Regions from separate parts of the Homo sapiens genome. Here all the other regions are linked to region 2. Evidence: fine-mapped expression QTL. A gene starts in region 2. Each other region holds a variant in brackets. All regions are shown on one strand. Distances are from middle to middle.

Region 1 (10,587 bases), 61 kb before region 2:
TATAAGAATGTCCACAGTGGCTTTTTCTTTAAGAGCTAAAATTAGCAAGGTAATGTAGAAAATGGTAAATGGATGAATAGCACATTCATACAATGGAATATACTTTACGCAATGGAAATGAACAAATATCAACTAGGTGCTACAATATAGACGAATCTCACAAACATAATATTGAGCAGAAGATTCCAGAAGCATTCCGACAGAGGTGCAGCCGATGGTGGTGCTGCTAGCAAGAAACAGGGAGGGTGGCCACTATGCCCTGCCCCAAGATGCTGCAAGGCTTGCACCCAGGACAGGAACCCTCCCTTGTCAGGGGCAGAGAGCAAGATGGATCTCAGGCAGGCACACTCCAAGAGGCTCTGCTGCCAGGACAACAGAGGGCTGGAGAGTAGACAGTTGAGTTCTGATTCCAGAGTGGCAGCAGGGAGTGAGCCTCAGCATGAGTCCAGACTCCAAACCCCAGTGCATGCTCAATTGTCCCATCAGACTTCACTTACAAAACACAAATTCTAGGAGAGAATTATTAGGAATTTTGAGATTGCAAACACACAAGCACAGGGCCCTTTTGAACATGTGTCCCTATGTGACTGCACTAGCCACATACCCATGAGGCCTGTCCTGCTTCAAATACAAAAGAATACATACTGGGTAACATATAAAAACATATATAGTTTTTAAAATTGGGTGGGGACCAGTTCTCCTTGGAGAAATGGCTGATTCTATGTCTCAGACATGGAAAGTACAAAGTGAAAACATGGGCCAGTGGGTGTCAGAAAGCAAGGAAGTATTCAAAAACTGCTAGGAATCTATCAAATGGATAGAAGAGCCAGTTTAAAGGTGCTCCCACTGGCCACATTTGGGATGACTTGGGCACCAGAATTAGTAACTGTAATTTGTTGCATTGCATTGAATAAATAAAAATTCCTGAAAATATCATCATGCTTATAAAGAAAATGCAAGAGGGCAAATAGGGAAGGAAAGAAAGGACGGTGAGAGGGAAGGCAGAAAGAAGGAAAAGACACTCACTTGCTATCATTGCAGGCAATAATTATTCAACTCCTTAACTTGAAAACTGGTGATTGAAGGGAAAAGAAGTAAGCATTTACCTCACATGTTAAAATTAAACTATAACTCACTGCCAGTTGATGGTTTAAAATGTTATTACAGAAAAAAAGGGATGTATTAAAAGTAGAAGAAATGATCCTTTTAAAATGAAATGTAATTTTAAAAAATAATTCAGTAAAAGATTATCAGTGGGTGCTAAAACCATCAGAAGGAAAGTTGATGGAATGGGATATTCACATTTTATGGACGTCTCACTCTTAGGATTGTCCGCTGTGAAAGGGAAAATTTACCTTTGCAATAGAGAAATCTTGTAGTTACCACCTTAACTAAGTAATCAAACCTAGTATCACTAATAGTGTCACTTTACATCTCCTGATGCAATACAGGATCTTGTGAAAATCTCTTTGCCAAAAATGATTGATTGAATCTATTTGAGCCTTTAGACCTATTCTACAGTTTATAGGAAATACAGGGGTAAAGAAACCAATTAAAGGACACCACGAGAAGCAAACAAACAAACTCAAAATGCAGACATTCCACTAAATAACTGGTCTTGTCTTCTAAATAATTAAATGTGAAAAATAAAATTGTGGGACGGCTATTTTAGACTAATGGGACATAACCCAAAATTTTTACTCACGACATTTACTGTTAGTTAATACATGAGAATTGTTGTGAAATTTCTAGGTGCAACAATTGTATTATACCTATGTGACAGAATGTCCTTATTTTTAGGAGATGTATCTGCACTGTTTTGGAGGACAATTTTCTCAGAAATGATTCTGCAGACAGACTAAAATGTTAACGACTGTGGAGTCTCAATGGAAGGCATGCAAATGTTAACTCTATTAATATTTCAACTTTTCTGTATGTTGGAAAAATTTTTAATGGTGTCAAAGTCTTATTGTAACTTACAAACTTTCTCTTTAACAGCTAAAACTTTCCTTTGAACAAAATCTTCCAAAGCCTTGTGGAAAATAAAGCAGACACCACCAGAACTGTTCTGATTGAAGCAGGTTAATGGTGCATCGCTATCAGCAACCCCCTCACCCCTCAAAGGCATGCCTGAAGCCTTCAGAGAAACTCAGTTTTAAACCACTGGCTTAGTAAATTATTCCCCATAGTGACAAGAAGGGCTGGAGGGCAGCAGAGCACCAAGTACCTAAAGAAAAAAGTGTGCACAGAGAAAAGGGCATAAAAAAGAAAGATGACAGAGAAATTAAGATACATTTCACATTCCCATTAAGGCCAATTTTCTCCTATGGCATTTTGGGATACTTAGGTAAATTTTCTCTGACAGCAAATACAGTCAGAGACCCAAAACCTAGGGAGAAAGAAGCATTGTCCTTAATAGAGTGTTCATCATGAAACATAGAGCCAAAGTGCCCATCTATTCTAAACCGCTCATAAACAGATAAAGAAATCAAAGTTTCATGTGGTCTTTTTTTAAAAATAAAAGATATGGAGTTTAAAATCCAATTTAATTGCACTTTAATTACTAAAAAGTTTTAGCCTTGGTGAAGTTTCCTGGGTAAAACAGGCCAGATAAGGCAGGTTTTTATTTACTTCCTGTTTGAAATGCATTTCACTTTTAGAAAATAGCCTACTAAATGTATGCATGTTTTAATTATGTGCTGTTTAAAGCACAATTAGGTAGTATAAATTTTAATTAGGTACTGAGCATTTATTTTTATTCTTTGTATGTTGTTTTATATGTGCAGGTGCTTATGATTTTAAAGACCTGACTCTTCCTTAATTAGTTCCCACCCATTCTGGTCTTTTTCTAAAATAACAAACCACATAATTTATTGTGTACATCTAAATATGTACAATTTCCTAAGAGACAAAGATTTTCTAAGGAAATAAATTTGTGAACTTAAGAAAATAACATTTTTTTCTAGGTTTCTTACATGTGAGTAGATGCTTGGATTAAAGTTTCATAGATCTTTGCCATTGTTATGAATGTCTAAGAATTATTTAAATTTAGAAAATAAAGAATGGAGTTCTTTGAGAGCATGTTGTAAAAATAATGTCTACAGTCTTGATATTTAGTAAGATACGTTTTTAAAGAACTATTTTTTCTTAGTATCAGCATGCTTTCTAAATTGAATCATAGATCTTAAGGCAAATAATCAAGGTCTTCTTATCTAGAAAGCAAAAAGTATTGTCTCTATTGGCAATCCAAATCTAGCCATTGTTACCAATCAGCCTTGGGAGAGGTCAATAAAGGGAGGGAAGATAACTAACACATACTGAGTGACAACCGTGTACAAGGTTGTCTCACTTAATTCTCATGACAATTCTACAAGGTAGATAGCATTTTCCCCTTTAGAAAGTGTTTGGACTAGGATTAAAATATACGTAAGACCTGCCTGACTGACTCAAAAACCCATGATTTTGACAAAATATCAATTATTATTAGAAGTTAAAATTTAAAAGGGAAAATGAAAATAAACCACATCTACAGGAAACTGCGTATTTGGGTGCATATAGTGTGAAGCAAACAGTTTTTATTGCTGGTGAGAAATCATAATGAGACAACTTACAGCATCAAAACAGATGTTTTTCAGCCTGCCTTAAGAATTGAAGAGACCAGACACTGTGAAACTACAGAAACATTCTCTCATTCTCTCAAGCTATAGGAGAAACATTAAATGGTGATCTTCTTTTCATTCACTTTTTCAGAAATAGAAAGTCATTAAGTCAAAAATAAACATATTTCTATACCTAGGAGTATCTAGAATTATGTCAATAACTAAAGGAAAATTAATTATGTCACCATCTCCAACACTGCCATTGACCTTCCCCACTCACCAAAAAAAAAAAAAAAAATGCATCAAGACTTTCCACTTTGTGCGGTAGTACCAGCACTAACCCAGAAATTCATTTTTTAGGTTGATCTTTGCCCAGTATGTCACATCACACTTCCATGAATAGCACTATTGATTTTAATAGTAGATATAATTTTGAAGACCAAAAATTGGGCCCAAGAACAATACCAACATAGTTGTCTTCTATCAAAAAGCCAGAGTTACATAGTATGTATTTTGAAATCTGTAAAATTTGGATATTGTTACCTCATAGATCTAGCATTAGGATTTGTCATAAATTTGTTCGTATGGTTGCTACCTCAGCATCCATTTTTGGACCAACGTAGTTATTTTAAAACCAATAGTACCCTATCACCTTTGGCCTTGTTAAAATTTCCCCTTCCTGAACATCACACACCAGGGCCTGTTGTGGGGTGGGGGGAGGGGGGAGGGATAGCATTAGGAGATATACCTAATGTAAATGACGAGTTAATGGGTGCAGCACACCAACATGGCACATGTATACATATGTAACAAACCTGCACGTTGTGCACATGTACCCTAGAACTTAAAGTATTGTTTTAAAAAATTTAAAAAAAAAAAAAACTTCCCCTTCCTGTGTGGCTGTTTGTGACACAGCCCCCTATCGGGGAACCTGCCCCGATATTCACGTAGGTTCTTTTCTATTTTGCTTAAGCATCGGCCGGCTTGAGAAATAAAGGGACAGAGTATAAAAGAGAGAAATTTTAAAGCTGGGCGTCCAGGGAAGACATCACATGTCGGTAGGTTCCATGATGCCCCATAAACCGCAAAAACCAGCAAGTTTTTATTAGGGATTTTCAAAAGGGGACGGAGTGTGCAAATAGGTGTGGGTCAGAGACATCAAGTACTTTACAAGGTAATAAAATATCACAAGGCAAATGGAGGCAGGGTGAGATCACAGGACCACAGGACCGGGGCAAAATTAAAATTGCTAATGAAGTTTTGGGCACCATTGTCATTGATAACATCTTATCAGGAGACAGGGTTTTGAGAGTAACTGGTCTGACCAAAAATTTATTAGACAGGAATTTCCTCCTCCTAATAAGCCTGGGAGCGCTATGGGAGACTGGGGTCTATTTCACCCCTACAGCCTCATCCGTAAGAGA[C/T]GGGGACACCAAGGGGGGCCGTTTATAGGCCTATACCCCCAGGCACGTATTCTCTTTCCCAGGGATGTTCCTTGCTGAGAAAAAGAATTCAGTGATACTTCTCCCATTTGCTTCCGAAAGAAGAGAAATACGGCTCTGTTCCACCTGGCTCACTGGCAGTCAGAGTTTAAGGTTATCTCTCTTATTCCCTGAACAATTGCTGTTATCCCGTTCTTTTTTTCAAGGTGCCCAGATTTCATATTGTTCAAACACACATGCTCTACAATTTGTGCAGTTAATGCAATTATCACATGGTCCTGAGGCCACATACATCTTCCTCAGCTGACAGGATTAAGAGATTAAAGTAAAGACAGGCATAGGAAATCACAAGGGTATTGACTGGGGAAGTGGTAAGTGTCCATGAAATCTTCACAATTTATGTTTGGAGACTGCAGGAAAGACAGGCATAAGAAATTATAAAAGTATTAATTTGGGGAACTAATAAATGTCCATGAAATCTTTACAATCCACATTCTTCTGCCATGGCTTCAGCTGGTCCCTCCGTTTGGGGTCCCTGACTTCCCACAACAGCCCCCTTGTTCCTCATCCCAGTGACCCAAAACCCAGCATGCCCACAGCTACTGACCATTAAAAAGCCTGATGGTCAACACCAGAGTCACATAAATCAGTTTCTCGCTTTGCATATGTTTTCTTTAAACTAGCCAACCCGCAACTCCAGAAGGAGAGCCTAGGGGATAATGCCCACAGATCTTAATAAAAGCAGAGTCTCACAGGTTTTTTTTCTCTCTTTCCCCTCTTTCACCACCCCCCGCCCCTCCCTGCGGGCTGACCATCCTGCTGTCTCTGGACTTCGCTCATGGGCAATCCTATTCTCTCACAGATCTGTCAATAACGTGCTGCTTCTGCCATTTCATGTGTTTTGTTGTACTGTCTCCCCTGTGACCTGACCTATACACCCCAACCTCACTCCCCTGGTCAGAGCTCTTCCTACAGAGTGGCTACTTGGATGGGAACAAACTGGACCTAGGTCAAACATGAACTACAAGGCATCTTTCAATATAAACAGGCTTCCTGGGAGAGAGACACCTGATCTTGCATCTGACAGACATTAGGCCATCTTCCAGGATAAAGACAGACCCCCATGAAAAGCACACTGTAAACATCTATGACCACCTCCTCTGAACTTCCACCAGGGCAGAGCTAGAATTTATAGCCACTCTCCAGAGAGAGACCTCAAGACCAAATTAGAGGAAAATCACAACAACAAAAGTCACAACAGAATTAAATAAGAATAAACACATGAAAGCTATTTTAGTGCCCAATATACAAGAGGTAATTCTAATGGGTAGAATAGTGGTCCCCTAAATGATAGGACCACACCCTAATTCCTGGAATCTTTTAATGTTACCTTATTTGAAAAAAAAAAAGTTATTTGCCGATTTAAGTTGAGGATCTTGAGATAAAGAGATCACCCAGGATTACCTGGTTGGGACCTAAATTCAATGAGAAGTGTCCTTATAAGGGATAGGAAAGATTAATATAAGAGGAAGAAGCATTATGAAGATGGAGACAAATATTGGTGGAGTAATGTAGCCACAAGCCAAGGACACCAAGGAACACCTGGAGCCATCAGAAGCTGGAAGAAGCAAGGAAGAAATCTACCCTAGAGTTTCCAAAAGGACTATGGTCATGCCAATGACACTTTCATTTCAGATATCTGGCCTCCAGAACTGTATGAGAATAGATTTATATTATTTTAAGCCACCTAGTTTGTGGTAATTTGTGGTGTCAGCCCCAGGACTCTAACACAGTTCTCACATGGTAGTTATTAGTGTTCTCTGGCTACCATTAGTAATTAGATTAAAGTCACTGCTGTGCCTTCTTGTTGGTTTAATTCAATGGTTCTCAAACTTCAATGCACATTAAAATCAACTGGGAAGCTCTTAGAACATAGATGCCCAGATCACATCTCCTGAGTTTCTAGTTAAATTGTTAGGGGTTAGGGGAATGGATGTGGGTCTTAGTAGTCTTCTGAAACTCCCAGGTAAAGATGACATGGAGCAAATACTGAGACCCACTGTTAACAATGATTATTCAGAATCTGTCTCCCTCTTGAGCTCTATCAGGAGAGGGACCATGTCTGAATTGTTTCTACCTAACACAGTGCCTGACATTTAGTAATGTATTGGTTGAATAAATAAATAAGTGTCTAATCCTCTAATATATATTTATTCCCATGTAAAAAATGAATGAAACACAACTCTTCCCCTCAAGCAGTTCACAGCGGTGGGAAGAGGAAGAGGAAGGAACATTGGGTTAGAAAAGAGAGACTATCTAAGAATAAAAGCAATTATATCAGGTAGAATTACATTCAGCTGCAAATAATAGAAACCCTAAAATAACAATGCCTTAAACAAATAGAAGTTTATCTCACATGTAAAAGAAATCCAAAGCAATCTATTAGTAGATTAAAATTGGTGAGATATTTTTAAACCTATCAGAGACCTTAGCTTCTCTCTTATTCCTCTTCCCTTCTAGCACACAGCTTCTAATTCATAGCCCAGTACAGTTGCCTGAGCTCCAGAGATGACAAGCACATTGCAGCCAGCCAGCAACAAGGGATAAAGACAGACAATCACTATCTCATTAAGTACTTACTTCCCAGTGCACATGACACTTCCACTTATATCCCAGTGACCAGAACTTAGTCCTATGGCTATCTATCAGAAAGGCTGAGAATATTGTTTGTGCATAGCTAAAAGTTGGAAGTTCTATATACTATCAAAGAAAAGAGAACTTGGATATTTAGGGGGATAAATTATTATCTCTGCCATAATATTAACTCTAGTAGAACAAACTTAGATACTAGGCTATAATAAAGGTCTAAAGAGCTTTGGAAGTATAGGGAAGAGAACTAAAATACAACTGGAAGCATCAAGGAAGGCTTCATTGAAAAGGTATCATGTGAGCCAGGACACGAAAGATAAATAGAACAATAACTAATACAAAAGATGCTTCAGGTAGAAGGCAAGAAGGAGAGCATTCCAGTGTGGAAAAAGAACAAGAGTTTTAAATCACAGAGACCAAGTTTGAATTACTAGCCTCACTACTTAATAAATGAGTTGTGGGAAGTCGTGAGGTTTGAATAAGAATATAAAATGCAATTTGCAAATAATAAATTTGAAAAAATATCTATAATAAAGATGAAACAGAAGCCTCAGATGAATGATGGAGAGATCTAATTGTCATACTAAGAACTTTGGATTTATTTTGTAATAGTGAGGTAATGGAGCACATTAATTGAGCTCATAATATTCCATCTTTATGGAAAGTACAGTTGATAATTTTGATAATAAACTTTGGTGCTTTTAATAATAAAAAAACTGTTTGCTACAGTCAGAAAATCTACATACCACCTTGGAATTCTTTCACAGCATTTTATTCCTCCTTACAGCTTTCAAACCATCTAGTAGACACATGCAGAAAAATCTGTTTGAAAATGACAAGTAAAAGATGTTTTATAAACTCCAGATGGAATTTGGTCTTTACTCAGATCAAATAGAAAAAGGCATCCAGACACCAGGGTAGATACAGAGCAAGCCAATTCTAACTTAGTGAAATAAAGTTTACTGTGTTTTTCTAACTGAACTTTAGTCCAGAAGCATAGCAGTTATGCTACTGTGGGGAGGGGGAAGGAAAAGTGGAGGGAACAGTGGAAAGTTACCATTATTTATTGAGAACCACAAGGAACCAGAGATAGTACTAAATATTTAAATTCCATGTCTCATTTAAACCCAGCAACCTTATGATTTGAATGTAACTGAGGTTCAGTAAGGCCCAAGTTACTGCATAACCAATGTCATCTAGTCATTGGATAACCAAGATTTAGTCATTGGTGACCAAGATTCAAAACCCAAAGCCTGTCTTATTCAAAAGTACTTGCTTCTTCCACACAGGTGATATGTACTTTCCTGCTCAGCCATTCAATGACTCATTCACTCTTAATTCTTTACTTCCAACTTATTTCCTCCAACTTTTAATCAAAACCTACCTCTATTATTCTATTTACCCAGATGTTTCTAATTTCAATATTCACTAATTTTCTTCTCCATTTCTGAATTATCCTACTTCCTGATTTATAATATAACATATAAACATTTCAAATTTTAAGAAAAAAAATCACCAATAAAGTTAACATGTACCACCTATCCTGCCTTTGAAAGCTTCCTGGTCTTTGCTGCCTTTGCATAAACATCTGCTAATGGATTTTAAATTTCCTTTTTTCTCTTTGCTGCAGGTGCTTATTTACGCATCAGTGGTGGACTAAAATATATGACAACTCTATTTGCTCAAGAGGGAAATTCAGATCAACTGTAGGCACTAGGCCAATTGTATACCACCTAATACAAATTTCATGTATTCAAAAAAATACTTACAAGATGACTACTGTGAGTTGGAAACATACAGTACTTATCACAAGTTGTCACTTCTGTTCCCCATGATCCCAGTCCATCTTCCCAGCATTTGCTTTCCCCACTCCTCCATCAAAGGCAATTGCAATTAACACTATTAAACACACTCCAGGTTTTTCCACTTCTGGGATTTTATTTATTCCTTTCTTCCTACCCCAAAAGCCATCTCATACCTCACCTTATAGGAATCTTATAAAGTTGTTTCAGCTCAAGGGTCATCACCTCCAGGATACCTTTCTGATGACCATAGCTGGACATGTTTCCTCTTTCTTTCCAATTGCCATATCATTGTATTTCTTTTTCCAATAACTTTTAATAATATTCTATTGTGTAATTATAAACAGGTACAGAAAATCACATAAACCAAATGTTTGGTGTAATGAATTATTTTAAGATGGATATCATCCAAGCCATGAATTAGAAACTCCTATCATGTTCTCATTCAAATCCCAACCAACTTTCTTCTGCCATAAATTAACATTATTCTAATCGAGTCACTTTTCATATTCTATTTCATATTACTGGTTTGAATTTACATGTGTCTTCCCTGTTCAAATGTAAGAATTTTCAGAGTCTTCTTACCAATTAATCTTTGCTGTTCTTCAACTGTGTAGCAGTTGCAGATTCTGCTAAATGCTATGAAAGAAATAAATATGGTGATGTATTAGGCAGTAACTGTGATAGCATGGGGAGAGGGGAAGATGGGGAAAAAGTTGACTACTTTAGGAAAGTGTCCAAGGAAGAATGCTCTGAAGAAGTGACATTTCAACTGAATCCTGAAAGAGGATTTGCCATTTAATAATGTGTATCTCCCTCAAGTGTTCAAAATCTTCTACGTGGCCCTTAAGACTCATCTTAGCCTTAAATCTTATCTTTTACTGCTCCTCTAACTAAATCCTCTCTTCTAGCCAGTCTGGTCTACTTACACTTTTCCTCTGCCAAAAATATACTCTTCCCATCTTTTCACTCATCAGAATTCTACATCAAAGCCCATATCAAATGCCAGTCCCTCTGTGAGGGCATAATTGATTATTCCAATCTGGGATTAGTTCCCTTCCTCGGAACTCTCTCCTGAAAGTTTTTTTAATCTGT
Region 2 (10,587 bases):
TGTTGTATAATACCAGAAATTTCTGACCGGATTATAACTTTGCCTAGTTCCATAATTTCAATCCTACCCCTACCCTACACCCTTGGTACCACAAGGTGGAATGAATGTTAGACATACTGTGTTTTATTCTGATATTGTAGATCTGTTGGGCAAAAGATAAGGTTAGTTGTTTAATTTTTCTTTAGTGTGTGCTTTTTTTTTTTTTTTTTTTTGACAGAATCTCACTCTGTCGCCCAGGCTGGAGTGCAGTGGCTCAATCTAGGCTCACTGCAAGCCCCGCCTCCCGGGTTCACTCCATTCTCCTGCCTCAGCCTCCCATGTAGCTGGGACTACAGGTGCCCACCACCATGCCTGGCTAATTTTTATTATTTTTAGTAGAAATGGGTTTTCACCGTGTTAGCCAGGATGGTCTTGATCTCCTGACCTCGTGATCCGCCCACCTCAGCCTCCCAAATTGCTGGGGTTACAGGCGTGAGCCACCGTGCCTGGCCTAGTTGTATTTTTAATGTAATCGAAAGTATAAACATCAGTCAAAAATCATGTTGACATGACTAAATGGCAAATATTTTTTATTCACATAATAAAATGTCCACATAAAAGCTTCATAACAATGAGAAGCATAGAGCATGCTCTCTATCAGAGAGCATGGTCCCTATTACACATCTCTATTAGATGTGTAAACTAGGCATATGCAACACTTAACATATAGTCACTTTAATACATCAATACAAATATCTGAACGTAGTTTTGCAGAGTGCATTTCCCAATAATATTCTAAATAGCATTTTAACTGTTACCAAATTTTTAATTATTAGAATTTATCAGTATAATATTAATGCTCTTAAAAGGTGCTAAAACTTTGTATTTATTTTGAACAACATGAATATCTATACTTTCCTCATACTAAAAATACCATAATGCAATAATCATCTTAGAAGTTATCCTAAAAAGTAACCACAATGTTACCTCCTCTCAATAAATAATTAAATTCTTCTTTACATTCATCAGGGAGAAAAGCAGGTCTTTTAGGTAAAGGTGTTTCACAATCTGAAAATAAAGAGTGATATGTTACAGCAAAAAGTAACTTTTATATAAAATATTAATGGTATAAACAAATTATATTTTCAGAAATATTTCCTTCAGTTGGCTCCTAATATTTAGAAAAATGAAGTAGGACTCTTCAAAGCTCCTTTTTAAAATTAACTTGTTTCCTTCAACTTCAGTATATTATTGAACATTTGAATACATCTTTATGAGAAAATAGTGTGCACCCAGCTAGCAGCTGCTGAGAAATTCAAATTTCAAGGTGAAGCTGTGTCAAAGTTCAAGGTGAAGCTGTCTCAAACATTCAAGAAAACACACAGACTCCAACTGTACAAGAGGAGAGTGAAGAGGAAGAGGTTGATGAAACAGGTGTAGAAGTTAAGGACATAAGGCCTGGCGTGGTGGCTCACGCTTGTAATCCTAGCATTTTGGGAGGCCGAGGGCGGCGGGGGGGGTGGATCACAAGGTCAGGAGTTCGAGACCAGCCAGGCCAACACAGTGAAGCCCCCATCTCTACTAAAAACACAAAAATTAGCTGGGTGTCGTGGCAGTCGCCTGTAATCCCAGCTACTCTGGAGGCTAAGGCAGGAGAATCACTTGAACCCAGGAGGCAGAGGTTACAGTGAGCCGAGATTGTGCCACTGCACTCCAGCCTGGGCCACAGAGCTCGACTCTGTCTCAAAAAAAAGAAGTTAAGGACATAGAATTGGTCATGCCAGAAGCAAATGTGTCGAGAGCAAAGGCAGTCTGAGCCCTGAAGTACAAGTAATGATATGTGGTAAATGCTATTGTGGAATTAACAATGTAACTGTATGAAAACACCTTTTTTTTTTTTCTTGGTGTTTCCAAGGAGTAACTGCAGCTTGCTTTGAAATTTGTATTGTTTCTATCATAAATAAAGCTATGGCTTCTTGCTGGAAAAAAAAAAAAAGAAAGAAAATAGTGTGCATCAATAAACATTGTCTTGCATTTTATCTCTACCTTCCTTCTTTGTTGTCAAAATTATACATTTGGCCTACACAGAAAAAAGCAGTAATTTTTCTAGCATGAGAAATAATGTTCTAAAATGAATTTCATACCTTTCTCAGAAGTAGAGTAAAGTAATTCTTCCTCTGATCTACTTGGATAACAACTCTCATTAGGAACTTCCTGTTCTCCATTATTGGGTACAGTTTTCCATTTAAATAAACTTTGGTGACTTTTGCCCATATTAGGACCTGCTATAGTATCATGGAACGAGGAAGATGCACGTATTTTGTTGACCACAACCATTTTCAAATCTTTTTCTATCTCCATTTTTACCTTCTCAGCATCATTTTCTCCAAAGTAATTTTCTTGCCCATTGTTTGTTTCCACAGTGCTTAGAAGTTCATTTTCCCTACTAATTTCATGAAACATACGAAGTTCTTCAAGTACTAAGTCAAATTTTCTCTTCATCTCAAAATCTTTTACTATTGTCAGAGCTTCTGTTGATAAATATTTAGCAGCTAAGTCCTGAAAACATTCATCATTCCCTTCACTCAGACCAGTTTCAAATTGATGATTAATATATAATGCAGAGTCATTCTTTCTGTGAAAATCCTTTGAATTAGCTATCTCCCTTTCTGGCAAAATACTCTCATATTCATTTGTATTTGTTACATAATTTTGATTAACATATTTATTTTCTTCCACATTTACTTCCTTACTTATTAATGAAACTGACTGTACAGAAAACATGTCATCCATTGGAAAAAAACTATCTTTCTCTTCCTTTTCTATCTTAGTATCTTTGTGAACTTGGCAACTATTTGTTAAACTTTCAGCTGTGACTTTTACTTCCTCTTTCAAAATTAAGTCATATTTTTTTTCTTCTATTTCACTTAGCAAGTTCCAAAAATTTAGTACTTGAGTTATAGAAGTGGTATGGGTCTCTTCATTATGTATTATGTTGTGGCTTGCTGGTATGGCCTGTTGCCTAACATTGCAGAGATCTTCAAATATGTGCTCACAGTCAAAGTTACTGATCTTATTATGTCCCTGTTTTCTTTCCATATTTAAATCTTGGCTGTGCATATTTACTTCATAAAAATTTTCATTAATGTATCCTCGGTTGTTCTGTATAAATTGAGGACAAGAATTACCATGTGCTTTAACAGTACTAGAATTATAGTGAGCCCAATTTTCCACATTCACAACTTGTTGAGGACAACTCATATTCTGACAAGTAATTTCTCTTATTAAAGAAATTTCATCCATGTCATCAAAGTCCATTAAAAGGGGAATTTTTTCATATGTTTCAAAAATCGGAAAACCTGTATTTTGAGTTGTCATACTGAAGGAATTAATGAGTTTTTTCTTAGACTTTTCAAAAACTTGTTCAGTTCTAAATAACTTCCTTTTCTTTAACATAGGTTTCATATTATCTTCTAATAGTCTTGAAGAAGTTAAAATCTTTACTAGATATGCAGTATGATTTTCCACTATATTTTTTGGATACTTCAAATAAAGCATGCACTTGAAAATGCATTCCTCTTCTAATTCAAAATCATTTTCAATTCTTGTTAAAGAGTCAAAGTTATTGAGCAAAAAAGCTATGTTAGTTTTCAATAGAATATCTAAAGGTTCTGAAACACTATCTTGTAAATATATGCTTAAAATTCCATTCTTTATATTTGTATTCATGTTTCTGGTTATTAGATTTTGAATACCAATTATACCAATTTGCTTTTTACACTTCAAAATGTTACAGCAGGTTAAAATACTATTATCTTTTTTATTTCCTGAAATACTTTTATGGAAATAAAAAATTTCTATAATGAAACTTTCAAAAGGGTTGTTCACATGAAAGACTTTTTGTGTAGTATTGTATCTCAACTGTAGAGTATTATCATTTTCTCCTTTACCATTTAGCCAAACAGTCGTTATTAAAGCTGTCTGACTACCTAATATTTCTCTTACGAGAAGCTTTGATTGTTCTTCATATGCATTGATGACTTTTGCACAGTGGTAATCTTCCTTGCTTAAAAGGTCTATTTCTAATAATAATAGCCAATTCCATTTTTCTTCAGTTTTTTTCATATTTTCACATTTAGTCTTGCAATTATTTATAATCCAACAATTTCCTCTATTTCTTCTCAAAATATGTCTAACGTTACAGTCCCAGTTTTGAGATTTTTCCAGCCTGGTAAGTACGTAACTGTCCAGACATTCTGCTTCCTCCCAATTTGCATTTTCTAGTATAGCGAAATTCTTTCTAGAGTCTCTTACATTACACTGGATACTACTGCAGTTACAGTAGTTTGAACTGATCAAGTCTTTTCTCTTACAAGTATTTTGGCTACTGAGTGATGGGTAGTCATTTTCATAACATTTGGAAAAAATGTTTTCCGCTTCTACAGTTTTTTTATCATTCTGTAACTTTTGCTTCTTAACATCAGGTCTATTTTGGGACCAGTAAATGTTTGTGAAATCCCTAACATATGCCTCTTTTTTGTCATTCTTTTTCTTCGCTATTTCCTTTAAATAGACAGAGGACATTTTGCTATTTAAGTCCATTGGAAACTGAGGGACACTTATTGTGCCGCTATCTCTAAAATAGCTAGGTTTGGCAATTTCCAAGCTGGGCTGGTTTTGAGATTTTGATATTTTTAGTACAGATGATGAAATGTTATTTTCTCTTTTATTTGATGGCACAACACTGTTAGCTTTACATCTGTTCTTAATTTCATGAAATGGTGATTTAGTTTCCTTGTAAAAGGTAACATCTAAAAATGGATTTTCTTTGTGAACATTGTCTCTTCCTTGGACAAACTGTTGTTTTCGATTCTCATTTCTAATTCCATGTATATCGTGTATAGAGGTGCTGGGCAGAAGTTGACTAACCCCTGCTTTGGAGCTATTACTGCGGTGCACACTGAAAGCCTCTCTGTCATGCAGGCCTGCCTCAGACCTTCCTGAAGCCCTCAAATCAGAATCAGGACTTTGTGAGGGGGGAGACTGCAAACAGCTACTCATTTGGAATTTGAGATTTGAGCATTTCAGATTACATATCTGCTTCCCACTGACTGATTTCTCCACACACGAGTCTGTGGAGTTATCGAAAATAGCATTCGTTGAAACAAGGAGTCCCTTGAAGGGTCTAGGGGACAACTCCCAGACTTTTTCCGCCTCAGACAAGCGAGGCACCAGAGGCAGTCGCCAGCCCGCCTTAAAGACACCTCCAGGCTCCTCAAGACAGAGCCGCTTGCTACTAGGTGGTTGGGAATCCGGGTCCTCAGGAGGCGTTAAAGAGGAGGTAGGCTTTCTGAGCTCGGCCATCCGCGGCGTGGGCTGAGGGAGAGACATGACAGCGAATGGAAAGGATCTGTCCGAGTCCCGGCGGGGCTCCAATCCCTTAATAGGCGGTTCCGGGCCGCTCTGGTCACGCCCCTGACCCGCCCCTCAAGACCTGGCCTTAGCCTAATCTCAGGGTTTGCCCCACCCCGAATCCGCCCCTCCACAGCCCCAGCCTCAGCCCCGCCCCGCCTCCCTCAGTCCCTCCTCTCCCTGCCCCCACCCACGCGCCCCGGTTGTCTCACCACTGAAGGTCGGAGCACCCTGGGCCGTTACATTGTCTATTTTTAGCGCCTTTTTCTAATGCCACGACTGTAGAGAGTCTAAATGCTTTTTTCCCTGTGGTAGAACGAAGGGGAAAAGTTAGAACCTCTCACTTAAAAAAAAAAAATTTGTGAATGGTAACAACTTTATTTTCTAAATTCTAAAATTTTGTTTACCTCAGAAACGGCATCTCCACAACGGCTCGAGTGACTCTCCAGTAAAATCGTGTAGTTCTGTCAGCACCAGACCAAATCTCTCTGTGTATGGAAAAACTTTTTAATCCTTCCAGCGTCACTTAAGATCATATTAATATTTCCACTTCACTAATAAAGTGTGTTTGGGGGAAAAAAGCCACCAGTACTTACCAGTCTATCTGAGGAAAAAATGTGTGGAAATTATTATCCGGATAATTATTATTCTTCACTTAAGACTAAAAAAAAAATAGTTTACTATGTGCTGTGGGGATTTCTTCTCAAATATTGTGGATAAAATTATTTAGAGATAAAATATTATATGTTTGAACTACCCCATTTAGTGTAAACATAATAATACAGGTCTGACTCATACCTACTAACAAATTTTTAGACGCTATTTCTTGTTTTTTTTTTTCCTGCTTTGAGAATCATTTATGATTTCCAGTCAATTCTGGTTTTTGTGAATTCTATAATCATTAAGAAGAAAATGTTTTTCAAAATGTTTATTATTATTATATACATGTTTCTTAAGAAACATGTAACTGGTGCTCAGTAATAAACACCTCGATTCCCTTGGTGGTTGTTTCAAGCTTGGTATGTTTTATATTACATTTTATGCTAAAATTTATAATAACTACAATAACATGCAACCAGAATCCTAACTTCAGAACCCTCCCATGGCATAGATGGCAATATATAACTAGCCTTCTACTTTAGGTAATAAGATGTTCACCAGTTTCATGTTTTTTAAATACTCTTAGATACATTGTGATTACTTCAGTGTAAATTCCTCTAGAGAAATGTTTACTTAAGTTTGTAGAAAGCCTTGCAGCAGAAGCACTTCATTAACACTATAAATAAGAATGTGGCAGTGGTTCAGATTCCACATCAGTGAATTCTCCAAGTTCTACTTCTGTGTATCTTATGTTCTATTGCTTTTCTATCCCAGATTTTCCACAAATCTATATTCTTTTCTAATCCATTCTGTTTTAGCCCATAAGGGGTGACTTGTATAGCTAAGGTGTATATAATTGGTGCGCTAGTGTGATATTAGGACCAAGACTTTTTAAATCTGTAAAGTAAATGCCATTGATTGTGATTTCTAGTCTAGATTGATCTGTAACTTGATATTTGATTATTTCTTCATCTTGCTAGTTTGCCCAAGAGCACATTATTTTTTATATCTCCATCACATCATTATTTAACAACTCTACATTGTTTAAGGATTAAAATTCAAATAAAACCCAGAAGTATTACATGTAACTCAACAATTGTTTGACTCCAAGATACAGAAATGTATAGTTATTTTCTCCATCCTGAAGAAACTTACAGCCATAAAGACCAAAAAAAGAGTCTTTTCTTGCATTTACTTATTTAAACATTATACTAATGGCCACTGCCATTTCAAACAATGGCTATTGAAACCACTATTTATGTGGGTTTTTTCCTTTGTTTTTTTAAATGCCACCTAGAAAATGAACCAGTTATAAGTGAGAAATGCAAAAAATTATGTCTTCAACTCATCATAATCAAAATATAAATAAGACTTGTCTGAATCTTACTGATGCCTCAAAGCCCATTTCAAATGTCATATTTTTCTATATCACTTTACCCAACCCTTCCTTTGAAGTTCTTACCTTCCTTAGTAACAGTAAACTGAGCTTTAAAGACAGCATCTATCTGATTTCTTTTAGCGTGGTGTCTTCTTATAGTTCAACTCTGAATGAATAAAAGGATTAATGAGTTCATGAGATAAACCCCATACTGAAGATATGACACAATCTCCTATTAGAGTTAAATCAGAAATTTACTCAATATCAATATCAAGTCTAATGTCCTTAAGCATAGTATGTCACATCCTCACTACTAGGTCCTACTTAACTCTTTCAGCTTCTTTTTTTTTTTTTAAACAATTTGCCCCCATGCTGCCTACACCAGAATGTTTATTTTCTTGCTCTTTTATGTATGTTCTCAAAGCCCTTCATTTCTCCTCCTGGCAAATTCTTATTAAGCCTTAAATGGCCCTACTCAAAAGTTACCTCTACGGTGAAAGCTTCTCTTCCTCCTCCCTGCTGTAGCCAATCCCTGGGCAGAATTACTTGCATCGTCATCTGTTTCCTATAGCAATTTATTTCTAACTGTAGAACACTTAAAATGTCTTTATTGTATTGAGTTGTTTATATGTCCCCTCCACTAGGCTCCATTAATCAGGACAAGGATTTATTAATTTTTGTATCCCCAGTGCCTCTAAGTACCTCAGTTAATTAGAAGAAATGAAATGACTCCATGGTTAATACTCATTTACCAACTCAAATGGATTCATGGTGTCTTGAAAGTGCCTTAAGTTTCTTGTTTTTGTGTTATTTTGCTTTAGTTTTATACATTAGAGACTTGCTTTTATAATCATGTTGAAATACATTTAACATGAAAACTATGCTGAGCTATAACACCATAGGAGTTCAAAATGGACTTCAAATATTAGTGGTTTTAGCATCATTTGTGTTTCATGGTAGAACCAGAAATATGACAAGACAGTTTTTCCCTTTTACTTCTTTTAATAAATCATGTAAGAAGTGAATAAATATGCTAAATCTAAAAGTTTGTTTCAAACTGAAAGATAATAAAATATATTTCAAACAGTTAAAAGAACCACTAACAAAAATATTTAAATACAGCAGTTAGAAAGGAAAACATCATCACTTACTAAAAATATTTAAAATAAATATGGCTATAAATAACACAAATAGCACTTTTCATCAAGTCAATGATAAGCACTAGGGGAAAATAAGAAAATCAGGATACTGTGTACATTTATTTGCATATAAGATTAAGTTTTTATCAGCGCAATAATGGTAATTTGTAACATAAATAACATCTTAAATGTGATAACATATGTGCAAATGCTTTAAACTATAAACCACCTTTTTGTCCTCAATGTTCATTAATGACATCATAATCTATCCAGTCTCCTAAACTAAAACTCTTATATTATCCTTAACTTTTTCTCTTTTTTTGTTTTACTACTTCCCAAAATGCATCCCCTACATAGACATTCATCAAATCTTGTTGATTTTACATCAAATATGACCCTGAAATTAATCCCCCTTTTATCCATAATGTATCATCTTTATTTCAATCTCTCGTTATCTCTTTCTGAGAATATTGTAATAAACCAGTCTTCATTTTACTAGTCTCTTCTCAACTTCTGCCCAATACCATTACAAAAGTTTTTTTCTTAATAGAATATTAATCATTTTGTTACTTTCTTAAGAACTTCTTTTAACCTTTGATGCCCTTCAGAATAAAATACAAACTTTAATTTGACATAGAAAGTTCCTCATAGTTCAGTTCTAAACTGTTTTTTTCAGCTTCCACATCTACTCCCACAACACAACTTACTTTCCTGCAGCACTTAACTTCTTGCCATCCCTTAAATGTATAAAGCCCTTCGCAGTTTCAGTCTAGGCCATATGCTGCTTCGTTTGCTTAAAGCATAGTGGCAGGTCTTACTTAGGAAAGTTTTCTGCAGTGATCCAAAGTTTACAGTCATCTTTAGACCCCTACAGTTTTATTTGCTAACCTTTTTTTTAACTTCTAAATTTCTCCGCATTATTATGTTATTATATTTTCTGCTTACTTAGCTAATTAGAAATAACCTTTTTCCTGAGCTCTAAGTATTGGAAAAACAGGTGGAATGTTCCACTATTTACAACATCCATTTGATACTCTAATAAATTTCAGTAACAATTTAAGAACCCTGTCGCTGAAATAAAGCAAGAGTTTGTTTTTTATTAGAATCCGTGCAATTGCAAATAACACCTTTTTTAAAAACAATTACGAGTTCTTTCCAATTAGACTTTTGTAAAAATCTTTTCAAGGTTTTGAGAGGACAAAATGTCTTTTTTTAATCATATAAACTTAAAATACTTAGATTACTTCCTCCTTTTGTAGTTTTTTCCTGAGTTTAGTCACATAAATATTTAGTTGGACATGGCAAATTTATATAGCTATCTTTTACTTAAAATTTTCAAGGAATTACATATATTGACATTAAATAAAAAATACATTTAACATGAAAACTATGCTGAACATAATTTAATTTTATATCCTGAAAGAAATATTGAATAGTAGTTGGAGGAGTAGAGTCGAATCAAACTAAGTTTTTGAATCTATAGTCCACTCATTCCTTGATGTGTAATATGAGCAAATTATTTAGTTTTTCTGAGACACAGCTTCCCATAAATGGGAATTAAAAAATAGAACCTACCTCATAGATTGCTGGGTAAAGTAAATGAAATACAGTATATAAAGCATTTAGAAGAGTCCTGGGCACCCAGTCAATGTCCATTTAAAAACATTTTTAATTACAATAATTATTATCAAACTCATAGTGTGCTGAGCTGGCTCTTACAGATTCAGAAGAGTTGATTGTTAGCATCTCTTCCCAACTGTGTATTTCAGTAACTTCACGTGGGTAGTTTGGAAGTATTTACATCACTGTAAATGGCTCATAATGGAAGTATTTATATCACTGAAATCAGCATATGCTACAGATCAGAGCTTTTTTTTCTAGAAAACCAGTTGTTAACAGTTACCAGCATAGTACAGCATCAAACTCTGTCTTATGTTTCAATAGTAATTTATATTATTCATACTATCTAAGTCAATTCTTACTACAAGCTTATAGCTGTAGTGAGCCAGGCAGTTTGTCTAGCTAATATCAAAGTCAAGCAATTCAATAGACTCTATATTTGATGCCAGGACATATGCA
Region 3 (10,587 bases), 79 kb before region 2:
TCACATTTTTGTAAAAAAACTATATACGGTATTTAAAATGGGTACGTTAAATTGAAAGTTTTATTTTTGCATATTTATACTTACTAAATTCTACACGTTTCACTCATCTATTCATTACTCAAAGTATTAAGGATATACAATGAAATGAAAATATGCTGACAGTATTTCTCCCATCATGGAGCTTACATTCTAGTGAATGGAGGTAAGCAATGAACATATAAATAAATGGGAACATATATTATTTTTGTAAAGCAGTTTCTAAAGATTTGTTTGTAAAAGTTGATAAGGAACAAAGCAAATATTATAGCATTTAAGATTTGGAAACATTTCAATAGAAGTCATGTGTAAGAGGATATGCTCATTGTCTTCATTTTTTTCTGTTCCAATATGGTAGAAGATGTTTTTGAGACCTAAAATACATGTGTAAAAAAATCAATTTGGTAGACATTTTCTTCCATAGGCATACATGGAAGTACATATGGGACAGTGTACACCTATTGGCCAAGAAAGAGAAGACTTAGCATTATCCTAATTCTTACCTGCCAAGTACCCTTGGGCAAGCCAGTTGACCTCTTTGTGCCTCAGATTCTTCATCTGATAAAGAAATAATTATGTTTCAAATATACTCTGAAGAGTTCAAATAAATTATACCCAAAGACAAAGTACTCTTAAAAGATATTCTAATGTATGCAAATGCATGTGTTCTTGACAAAAAATCCTTGCTAAAAGCAACTTAACAAAAATAACAATACTAATAGTAGCTACCATTACTTGAAAACCTATAAGCTACACACCATGCTAGACGTTTTAATTATATGATGGCTTTTAAACATCCTGACAATTGTTTGAGTCAGGTATTACTATTCTAATTTTACAGGTGAGAGAAACAAGAGTCAAAGAAGTTAAATCATGTCTTCACAATGAAACAGCTAATAAATGACAGAACCCAGATCTATAGACCTTTAAAACTCATTACGTTCCTTTTATGTGTCCTCATGCTTCAGAATTTCCTAAATTTTACAAAAATTGTGTTAAAATAAGGAAATCCTAAATGTTAATGTGAAAGTATCATTTTAGTCTTCTAACTTACCCAATCTTGGTGATGTGAGATGAAAATTAAATGATTAGCAGGTTAAAATAGAAAAAAGTAAAAGAAAAAAATTACATAAGTTGAAAAGTATAAACACTTTGTACCCTGCTGTATATTTATGATAGAAATTTTACTTTTTAGTACTTCACAAAATTGGAATGCTTCAGAGAAATGGCCTTTTCCCAAATAAATTCTCCAATCCCAAACCTACACACGACGAAAGCATTCAACTAGAAGAGGCTGTCTAACACTGAGGGCTTGGTACAGTTTTGGAAAAAGTGAGGATACCTGGCTTCTAATCCCAGTAATTCTACTTTATTGGGTAATATGGCGTTGGTCAAACCATGTACTCTTCGGGTCTCAGACACCTACCTCAAATCTGAAATTGACTTCAAAAGGCTGGAAGCAGGTGCTCATAAATCCATAAATATACATGGCTTTTAAACATCTGGAGTTTTATACCAATGTCAAGGATAATTGTTACTAGTGTCCTGAGGTCATTAGGAGAAGACAGAGCTCTGCCTCCAAAAAGTGATAAAAAGTGTACTCACTCACATCAGAAAGTATAACAAGAGGAACCACACACACACACACTGGCACACACATACACACACACACACACTCACGAAAGGCATGGTCAGTTTTGGTAACGTGAATCCAGCTATCCAGATCCTAATGAAGGTAAGCAGGATATCTGGGCTCCTGACTCAGTCCCCATCCTCTTACCCCAGCACTATTCAGAAAGATTTTACAGTACTGTACTTTGATATAGTTGTGTTAACCACGGGGGACTATCCAATGGCTTTGTAAAAAGCTTTTAGACTGATGATTAAAAGTTAGGCAGAACATAAAAGAAAGTGCCTTCTGCATCACCACTTGTTTAATGCCCACTAGACAGATTTCTCCATTGGGCCTGCTTTATCCAGAAGAAGGCACCAGAAAACTAATTTATTAAAAAGGGGCCTTCTGGTTCAAGGCTGAGGCAACGTTTCTTATGATTAATATATCATCCTCACAAAAGCATGGCCCAGGGTGTTTTTATGTCACTGATTACCAAAGAAAGTTAATGTTCTTTATTTTAGTTCTTTAAATGGACTTTAATTTTAAAAGTATTTTATTTTCTTCTGCTTCATTATTTTTATGTTTTTTTAAACAATAATGGTATATATTTTAGTAATATGAGTTTTGATTCTTTCATATTATTGGTAATATAATTAGTAAAATTTTAAATAGGAACTTCAGTCAGAAATATGATTTCTACAAGAGCAGAATTGTGTAGTAAGTACTTTAAAACAAAATATTATTATATATAATAGAATCTTATTGTTTGTTTCAATTATAGAAATGAATAATTATAAATAAGACCAAACTTAGATGAATAAAACCAGAAAATAAAAGTATTTCAAACAGCTTAAACTCTTTTAGGGTCATATAAACATATGATCCTATTAAATGCTTTCATTAAACAATGTTATTAACAATTTTATTAAGTTGAGCTCATGTTAACTTGCTTTTTAAAAATGTTCCTAGGTATGTCCCTTTTGATCAAGTTATAGTTAAAAGTCTCTTATGAATAAAATGGAAATGATAGTATTTACTTCATAGGGAAGAAAGAGTGCCTAATTGCCTGGTAGACAGCAAGGTCAATATTAGCGAGGGCTCTTTAATTAAGCTGTACTTTTAAAAATTAATTTACATTCTGCTTTCCATTCCAAATTTGCCATTGTTACAAATGCAAAACCATTTTAGCACTTCCCAAAGGAAGATTTTCAAAGTTTCAATAAATACACGAAAAAAGGTTTAAAATCATCAGTCATCAGAAAATGCAAATTAAAAATTCCAATTAAATGGAAATGTAAAATTTTCCAATTAAAAATTCACTTCAGCTGCTCTTGAGAGTGTAACTTCTACTACACTCTCAAGAATAGCTAAAGTGAAAACAAATGTTGGAGAGGATGTAGAGCAACTGGAACTCACAAACATTGCTGGTGGAATGTAAAATAGTACAACCTCTTTGTAAACCTGTCTTGCAGTTTATTAGAAACGTTAAACATAAATCTACCCTGTGACTCTGCAAGAAATGAAAACATATGTCCACCAAAGGCCCTGTACAAAAAGGTTGATAGCAGCTTGTTAATTAGAGCCATCATCTGGTGCATAGATAAACTGTGGTATAGTCACACAATGGAAAACTACTCAACAATAGAAAGGAATTGGTGATTGATACATACAATATGGATACATTTTTAAAATAAGTATATACTGTATAATTCCATTTAGATACAATTCTAGAGTATACAAAAGTAACCTATGCTGATAGAAATCAGATCAGTGGTTTCCTCCCTGCTGTGCATTATATGTGAGTCCAAGGAGGGAGAGGAGAGTGGTGGGTTCTTTCTTTTCATTTTCGGAATTGCCAGAAGTTTGTAATTTTGGGGAGTGGGAGGTGGGGTGGAGGCAAATTGATGGATCTTTTCATAGTAATGGTTTTGTTTGTTTGTTTTTGTGCATGAAGACTTTGTTACCTTTATTAGTTTTTTCCTTTCTAGTATTTGTGGCTTATCATATTGGTCATTTTTGTTAGTTTCATTCTTTATCATTTTAACATATTATTCTAATGTACATTTTCCTTTTAGTACCATCTTTGGCAGCATTTCCTATAGTCTGTTCTTTATTATGACTTATTGCCAAACAGTTTATAATTTCAATGTGGTTTCTTCTTTTAACCAGGAGCTATTTGAAAACATTGTTGTTGCTGTATTCTTATATCTATTTAACTTTCTAATCTTCTTTGGTTGCCCTTTTAAGTTTTACTATATTGTGATCAATCAATTTGACCTAAATAATTTCCAGTTTTTGAAATATATTGAGATTTTCTTTGAGGCTTAACATATGTTCAACTTCTATACATGTTCCATAGGTGTTTGAAAGAATGTATATCATCTACATATATACTTATTTAAACAAGTTTAGTAATTATTGATCAGATGCTCTAAAACCTTATGTATATTTTAC[T/C]TGTCTGGGTCTCCTTTTTATTGTATATGTAAGAGTGTTTTATATTTTAATTGTATATTGCTTGATGAATAAAAATTTAAGTCTGCTACATCTTATTGGTAGTTAGTATATTTTATTGATGTAAAATATGTCTCTTTGCCTCATTTAAATCCATGTGAGAATAGAAACCACCCAAAGTCACACAGATTAATAGGATTAAAATTAAGATTGTTTTCATAATATTATTATTTGACTGCATGCATTAACATTACTGTTCCAGTGTGTCCAAAAAAAGTTGCCCAAATGTTTTAAAGTAACTTATTTCCAGTGCAACTATGCCTTTGAAAAATATATAAAATGATAATCTTACACAATTGCCTACATTCAATGTCAAGAAATAAAACTAAGGGGCTGACTTTATTCCTAAAGTTATGAAGTTGAAAACTGAATTTCAAGGATAATTCTGATTTCATATTTTATAAAACAGGAAAACACCACCGTGGAGAACAAGACTTATTATTAAACTTCACTCTGTTTTATTCTCTGGCCTTAATACATTATGTGCCTCCTGTCTTGATCATCATTAAAAGAAAATTACTCAGGGTTTTGACTTGGAACAAACCCCATCCACTGGTAGCTTTAAGTAAAGATGGAGCTCCTCTACAAAGAATTATTGCTCAATTACCCTGGTAATTGCCCCAAGGACCTTCTTGATTTATACCTGACCCTATACTGAGTTTGTTTGGAGTTCCTGTGGTAAAAACAGTTCTCACCGTTGCAACTGGCTTCTGCCTTTGTCTGTGTCCATTTCAAATTATAATTTCCTTTATCAATCTGGTCCTACCTGCTGTCTATAACTTAAAAATTATGCAAAATATCTGGTATACTTACAGAATCCTTTCTTGCTTTTCAGCACTGTTATAGAATACACACACGCACACACACACAATTTCAAAAGGACCATAGGAACTTAGGAAGGAGCTAGATCTTGGGAGGAAGCTGAGTAGGATCAACATACTGGCTAAGTCAAGGATACACCATTCACATTATGTTGGCCTTGCTTTTCATTGGATTGTACAAAACAGGGCCTCACAGGAAGAAAACATGCATGCTCAGTCTGCCATCTTGAACCTGAAGTATCAATCGCCCACTGAGATTTTAAATAGGCCTTTCTTGCTCCTTTGGGTTATAATTGGTTTAGAAATCACAAAAAAAATTAGGATTGGTTATTTAAAATGTGTATCCCTCTGGCATCTGTGTTCTATGTGAGATCAGCCAAAAACTTTTGTAAATTAATAATCCAAAATATCCTCCAGACACAATGAAATTAAAAGAAGGATATTACCAGTTTCCCCAGATGGGGAAAAAAGAGATTGTGAGGTTAAAGCCAAACAATTAAAATCCTCAAAATGTTCCCAGTGTATTTGCATTTGCTTGTTGATTGCTTTTATCATACAATAAAACTAAAGACTTTCTGCAACCAAATGCAGTAGAAAACAATCTTTACTGAGGAAAAAAATTAAAATATGAATTGCTTTTTGTAGGAAAGACTTGTTGAAACATTTTGTAATTTCTAACTTGAATTGACTGAGGCCCACAGAGACATGAAGGCAACCTTTGCAAAATGTATTAAAAGTAACAACAGGACTTACTCTGTACTTTGCTAAAATATTAGTTAATTCAAAGTGCATAATAATCACTTACAAATGGATGCATATACATCTACAAAATCAAAGCAAAACATCTCTTCCAGAGATTTTTTTCTAGTGTTTTAACAGGACAGCATGGCAAAATAATATTTCCAGTACATCTTAAAATTAAAATAAACATCTACATTACCTAGAACCTCAGAGAAAAGTATTCATTATAATAAAATAAATATACCATAATTTCATAAATGTGAACCCATATGTGTTCATAGAACCAGCAGCAAAATTTTGTCTTCATGACACCCACTAATTGTAAGATAAGTACCAAATTATTTCCATTAGTATTCAAGGTTCTTTGAATTCCAGCCTCCACCTCTTCTGCCTCTATTGTCTCTCATTACTTTCCATATAAATAAATTCTTAAATCTAGGAAACTATTTTCCGTGCTCATTCATGGGTTTATTCATTTAGTAAATATTCATTAAGCCCCTACCAAGTATCAAGCACAGTTTTAGGCACTGGAGACACACCAGTGAAATGACAGACAAAAATTACCGTTCTTGTGAAACTTATGTTCTTTAGAGGACAGGAGGAGACAGATATGAAAGCATAAATTATGCATATATAGGTGTATATGTTTATATAGTGTAAATTATAGGTAAAAGTGAAGGATAATGGAAAAATTTGACCAGAGTAAGCATCCAGGGGTGATGGGGGAGTTGCAACTAATCCAGCTCAAGCCGTTGGCTCCCATTGAAACTCTTCCCAGTTTCTCCGACCTATGGTGACCTTCCCATCCTGTGAACAAGTGTAGTACTACCTGACAATCTGTAGCCTTCAACTGACTTTTCTGGCACATTATCTTATACTGTAATAGGCAGTAAATTTGAAACTGCCTGGAATTGGAGAGAGAAGTCCAGCAATGTAGTTTTGACTCTGTCACTTGGTAAATTATGTAACCTGTAATTTTTTAAAGGAGGGGTTTGACTATATGGTTATCTTAATATCTTTTGAACTGGAAATATCATAATTTTTATGTGTATGTTTTTCTGCCCCCATCAATTTTGCAATAAGCATATGTCTTTTATATATATTCTTTTTAGAACCATCCATATGTTTAATATGTAATAAATGTGTATTTATCTTAATTGGTTTGCTGGTAAAATCATTTTCAGTCTCATTATCAAAACATCATTCAAGGCCGGGTGCGGTGGCTCATGCTTGTAACCCCACACTTTGGGAGGCCGAGGCAGGCAGATCACCTGAGGTCAGGAGTTCAAGACCAGCCTGGCCAACATAGTGAAACCCCATATCTAATAAAAATACAAAAATTAGCCAGGTGTGGTGGTGCATGTCTGTAATCCCAGCTACTCAGAAGGCTGAGGCAGGAGAATCGCTTGAACCTGGGAGGCAGAGGTTGCAGTGAGGCAGGATTGCACCATTGCACTCCAGCCTGGGTGACAAGAATGAAACTCCGTCTCAAAAAAAAATATTCAATTATGAATAAATGTTTTCAGTCATACACCAGTCTTTCCATTGGCTGCAAATATTTTGTGAAGGAATGTTCTCTCTCTAGTCTCTGAGTAAGGTATAGGTTTTAAAAGAACTTAAGTTCAAGAAATCATGGTTCTCAAGCCCTGTCACTAATGTGCCATGAATACAGATGTTTTGTTTAAAAAGCATTTGATCCTCTCTAGGAAAATCTGCCCCTGCAAAGTTTCCATGTCATTTTTAGTTTGTATTGCCACAAAATCACTCCCAGTAACTATTCAATCAAAAAAAAATTTGCAAAAGCAATTATTCCAAACTAGACAGTTTAGAGCTCCCAAGATTCTGTGCCCCTTGTCTTCAGCTACCAGGGTGGATATGGAAGACCCAGAAGGTGGAGGCAGGGTTAGGCGTGTCTGAGCTCAGACTGTCCTTGTGTGGGTCTTGCTGTGAATGCTGTGGGGGTTGGGGTGAGCTTCCCTGGTCAATGGAGTTGTGTACCTAGGAGGATTATGGCTGCCTCTGCTGAGTCATGCAGATTGTCAAGGAAATGGGGGATAATCAGCAGCCACAGATCTCCCCCCAGCTCCCATGCAAATCAAAGAACTGGTCTCACTCCCATCATGACCCCCTCAACAGCCCTGAGTCTGTTTCCAGGCAGTGGGCAGGCTGGTCTTGAGAACTTGCCCCAGGCTACCTGCCTCCCAGCTGCGAAAGACAAGGGCTTGATTCCTCCCCCACCTGTGGAGGTTGCACACCGGATTCAGCTTCTTGCCCAGTTCAAATTGTTACAAAGTTCAGCTGGAGACCTTCTTCCCTGTGGTGATTTCCCCCTACTCCTCTGGCTGCCTCCCAGAGGATCCCTGTGGTGCCAGGCAGGAATGACTTGCTTGGGAACCCAGCGAGATCCCACCTGCTGCTTCCTCCCTGTATTTTGCTTGGCCCTCTAAATTGACTCAGCTCCAGGTAAGGTCAGAAACCTCTCCCACAAACAGACCTTCAGTTTCTCCAGTGGGGGTGTGTGTTCAGGAGAGGAGGATCTCCCTTTCCCGCTTCCGCAGTTGGGTCACTCACAGTATTTGGGGTGTCTCCTGGGTGTTGCAGGAACAGTCCGCTTTTTTCAGAGGGTCTGTGGGTCCTCTCAGGATTGCTGGTTTGTTCTTGAAGTTTATCTGGAGCTAAAATTCACAATGCGAGCCTCCGCACGCTGCTCTGAGTCAGAGCTGCAATCTAATCCTGCCTCCTGTCTGCCACGATGATCGATTCCACAAAGAAAATTCTAAGTCCACGCAGCTTAAGTTCTGTCAAACATTTAAAAAAAAATACTGAATAAAGGAAGAGTGAATACTTATACCTCATAGTATGTGGTCACCATTACTCTGATACTAAAACCAAGGATATTATTAAAAAATAAAACTACAGACCAATATGTCTCCTAATCATACATTCAAAAATCCTTAACACGGTATAAGCAAATTAAGTCCAGCAATTTATAAGAAGGGTAATGCACCATGACCAAGTGGGGTTTATATGATGAATGCAAAGTGAATTTAAAATGTAAAAAATAACCAGTATCATTCACCATATTAATAAAAATATATGATCTCATTAAAGTACAAAAAAGCATTTGAGGCTGGATGTGGTGACTCATGCCTGCAATCTCATCACTTTGGGAAGCCGAACAGGGTGGATTGCTTGAGCCCAAGACTTTGAGGCCAGGCTTGGCAACATAAAGAGAAACCCATCTCTACAAAAAATTTTAAAAATTAGCCAGGCATGGTGGTGCATGACTGTGTCCCAGCTACTTGGGAACAGGTGAAGGCAAGAGGATTGCGTGAGGCCCAGATTTCAAGGCTGCAGTAAGCTATGATCAAATTATTGCATCACTGCACTCCAGCCTGGATGACAGAGTGAGACCTTGTCAAAAAAACAACAACAACAACAAAAAAAAAAACCACTTGATACAATTCAATACACATTCACCCATTCATGATAAAAATTCTTATGTAAATAGAAACATAATGGAACTTCCTGAACCTCATAAAAAAAAATTCACAAAATCCTATAAAAAACCTCATGCTAAATGGTGAAAGATAATTTCTCACTCAAGTTCAGAAAGAAGGCAAGGATGCTCATTCTCAGTGTTCTTACTCAACAGTGTTCTTACTCAACAGTGTTCTGAATGCAATGTAATATGCAAAACAATGCAGTAAGGCAATAAATAAATATATACGATCACAGTGGAAAAATTAAAACTACATCTATTCAAACATAACATGATCATGTATACAGAAAATTCTAAGGAATTCATCCAAAAAAGTTACTAGAAATAACAAATTAATTTAACATGTTTGCAGAATATAAAATCAATATACAAGAATCAATTGTATTTTCTTACACTATTAACAAACAATTAGATCACTGTTACCTCTGACCAAAATGAATTTAAAAGACCAGAATTACCCTCTCAGATGAAATAATTAAAAAGTCAGAAAAAATATATAAAGTAACTGATAAAAACAAGCAGACAAGATACAGAAGCCTTTAAGAATACTATTAAAAATTTTGACATAAATAATAACTGAATCTGGCAACTGCATAATTCATATCTCTGTAAGTACAAACAATATTTATCTAAACTGACGGTATGCTGGGCAATAGAGTAAATTTTAACTCATTTGAAAGTACTGGAATTATAAAGCATATTATCTAAGTAGAATGGAATAAAGCTAAAATATAATTTTAAAAAAACAACTAGAGAATCTTCATGTGTTTAGAATATTAAGCAATAGACTTCTAAATAAATCACTTTTTAAACAAGACTCAAAATGAAAATTAGAAAGTGTTTTTTACTAAATGATAATGAAAATATTGCATACTAATGTTTGTGGGATGTGATTAAAGCCATGATCAGAAGACATTTTTTATAGAAATAGAATAATTGTATAAATGGTTATCTTAAGAAATTATAAAATTAGCAGTAAATTAAAAGGTAAGGAAAGGAGAAAATGAAGTCAAAAATTCCATACAAAGGATTAGCAAAGCCCAAATTGGTCCTTTGACAAAGCCTTGACAAATAAAATTTATAAACACCTACTGAGGACAATCAGAAGAAGAAAAGAGAAAGCAAATTTACCAAGAAGTCTTTAATAAAATTTAACGTCTACTCACCACTCAAAAAAAAAAAAAATAATAATAGAACAACAAAAAAGAACCTGTTACAAAAATAAGAAAGAAAACCTTCCTTATCTGGGTAAGGATACCTAGGAAAATAAAGAAAGATCAAATAAATAAAAACCTACAGAAAACATCACATTTAATAATAAAATAATGAAAGCTTTTCCTCTGTGGTTGAAATAAGACAAG

Direction of the effects. Positions count from the first base shown, and alleles are read on the strand shown. Sizes are in standard deviations (SD) of each study's normalised expression.
With allele T in place of C in region 1, the expression in pancreas of the gene that starts at base 5,395 in region 2 is higher (small effect, 0.35 SD a copy in GTEx).
As copies of T replace C in region 3, the expression in cerebral cortex of the gene that starts at base 5,395 in region 2 goes up (small effect, 0.35 SD a copy in GTEx).

Evidence for each region. PIP is the estimated chance that this variant, and not a neighbour inherited with it, causes the effect. A credible set is the group of variants that fine-mapping cannot tell apart.
Region 1: its variant is the best candidate, but not a certain one, in a credible set for the expression of RAD51AP2 in pancreas (GTEx, PIP 0.59).
Region 3: its variant is the best candidate, but not a certain one, in a credible set for the expression of RAD51AP2 in cerebral cortex (GTEx, PIP 0.63).

What each region holds. Positions count from the first base shown.
Region 1 is chr2:17,451,951-17,462,537 of GRCh38, forward strand. No RefSeq gene overlaps it. Among named protein-coding and RNA genes, the nearest start is that of RAD51AP2, 61 kb to the right of the region's middle. The variant C/T (reference allele first, on the strand shown) is at 5,024.
Region 2 is chr2:17,513,046-17,523,632 of GRCh38, forward strand. RAD51AP2 (RAD51 associated protein 2) reads right to left here and starts at 5,395. Exons shown (of 3, transcript NM_001099218.3): 1 at 2,124-5,395; 2 at 967-1,047. The coding sequence starts at 5,370. It also overlaps the pseudogene LOC101928149. RefSeq lists enhancers at 4,923-6,122, 5,107-5,656 and a silencer at 5,418-5,667.
Region 3 is chr2:17,433,553-17,444,139 of GRCh38, forward strand. LOC105373448 (a long non-coding RNA gene) reads right to left here and starts at 8,376. Exons shown (of 3, transcript XR_939759.2): 1 at 8,296-8,376; 2 at 540-594; 3 at 34-410. The variant T/C (reference allele first, on the strand shown) is at 4,106.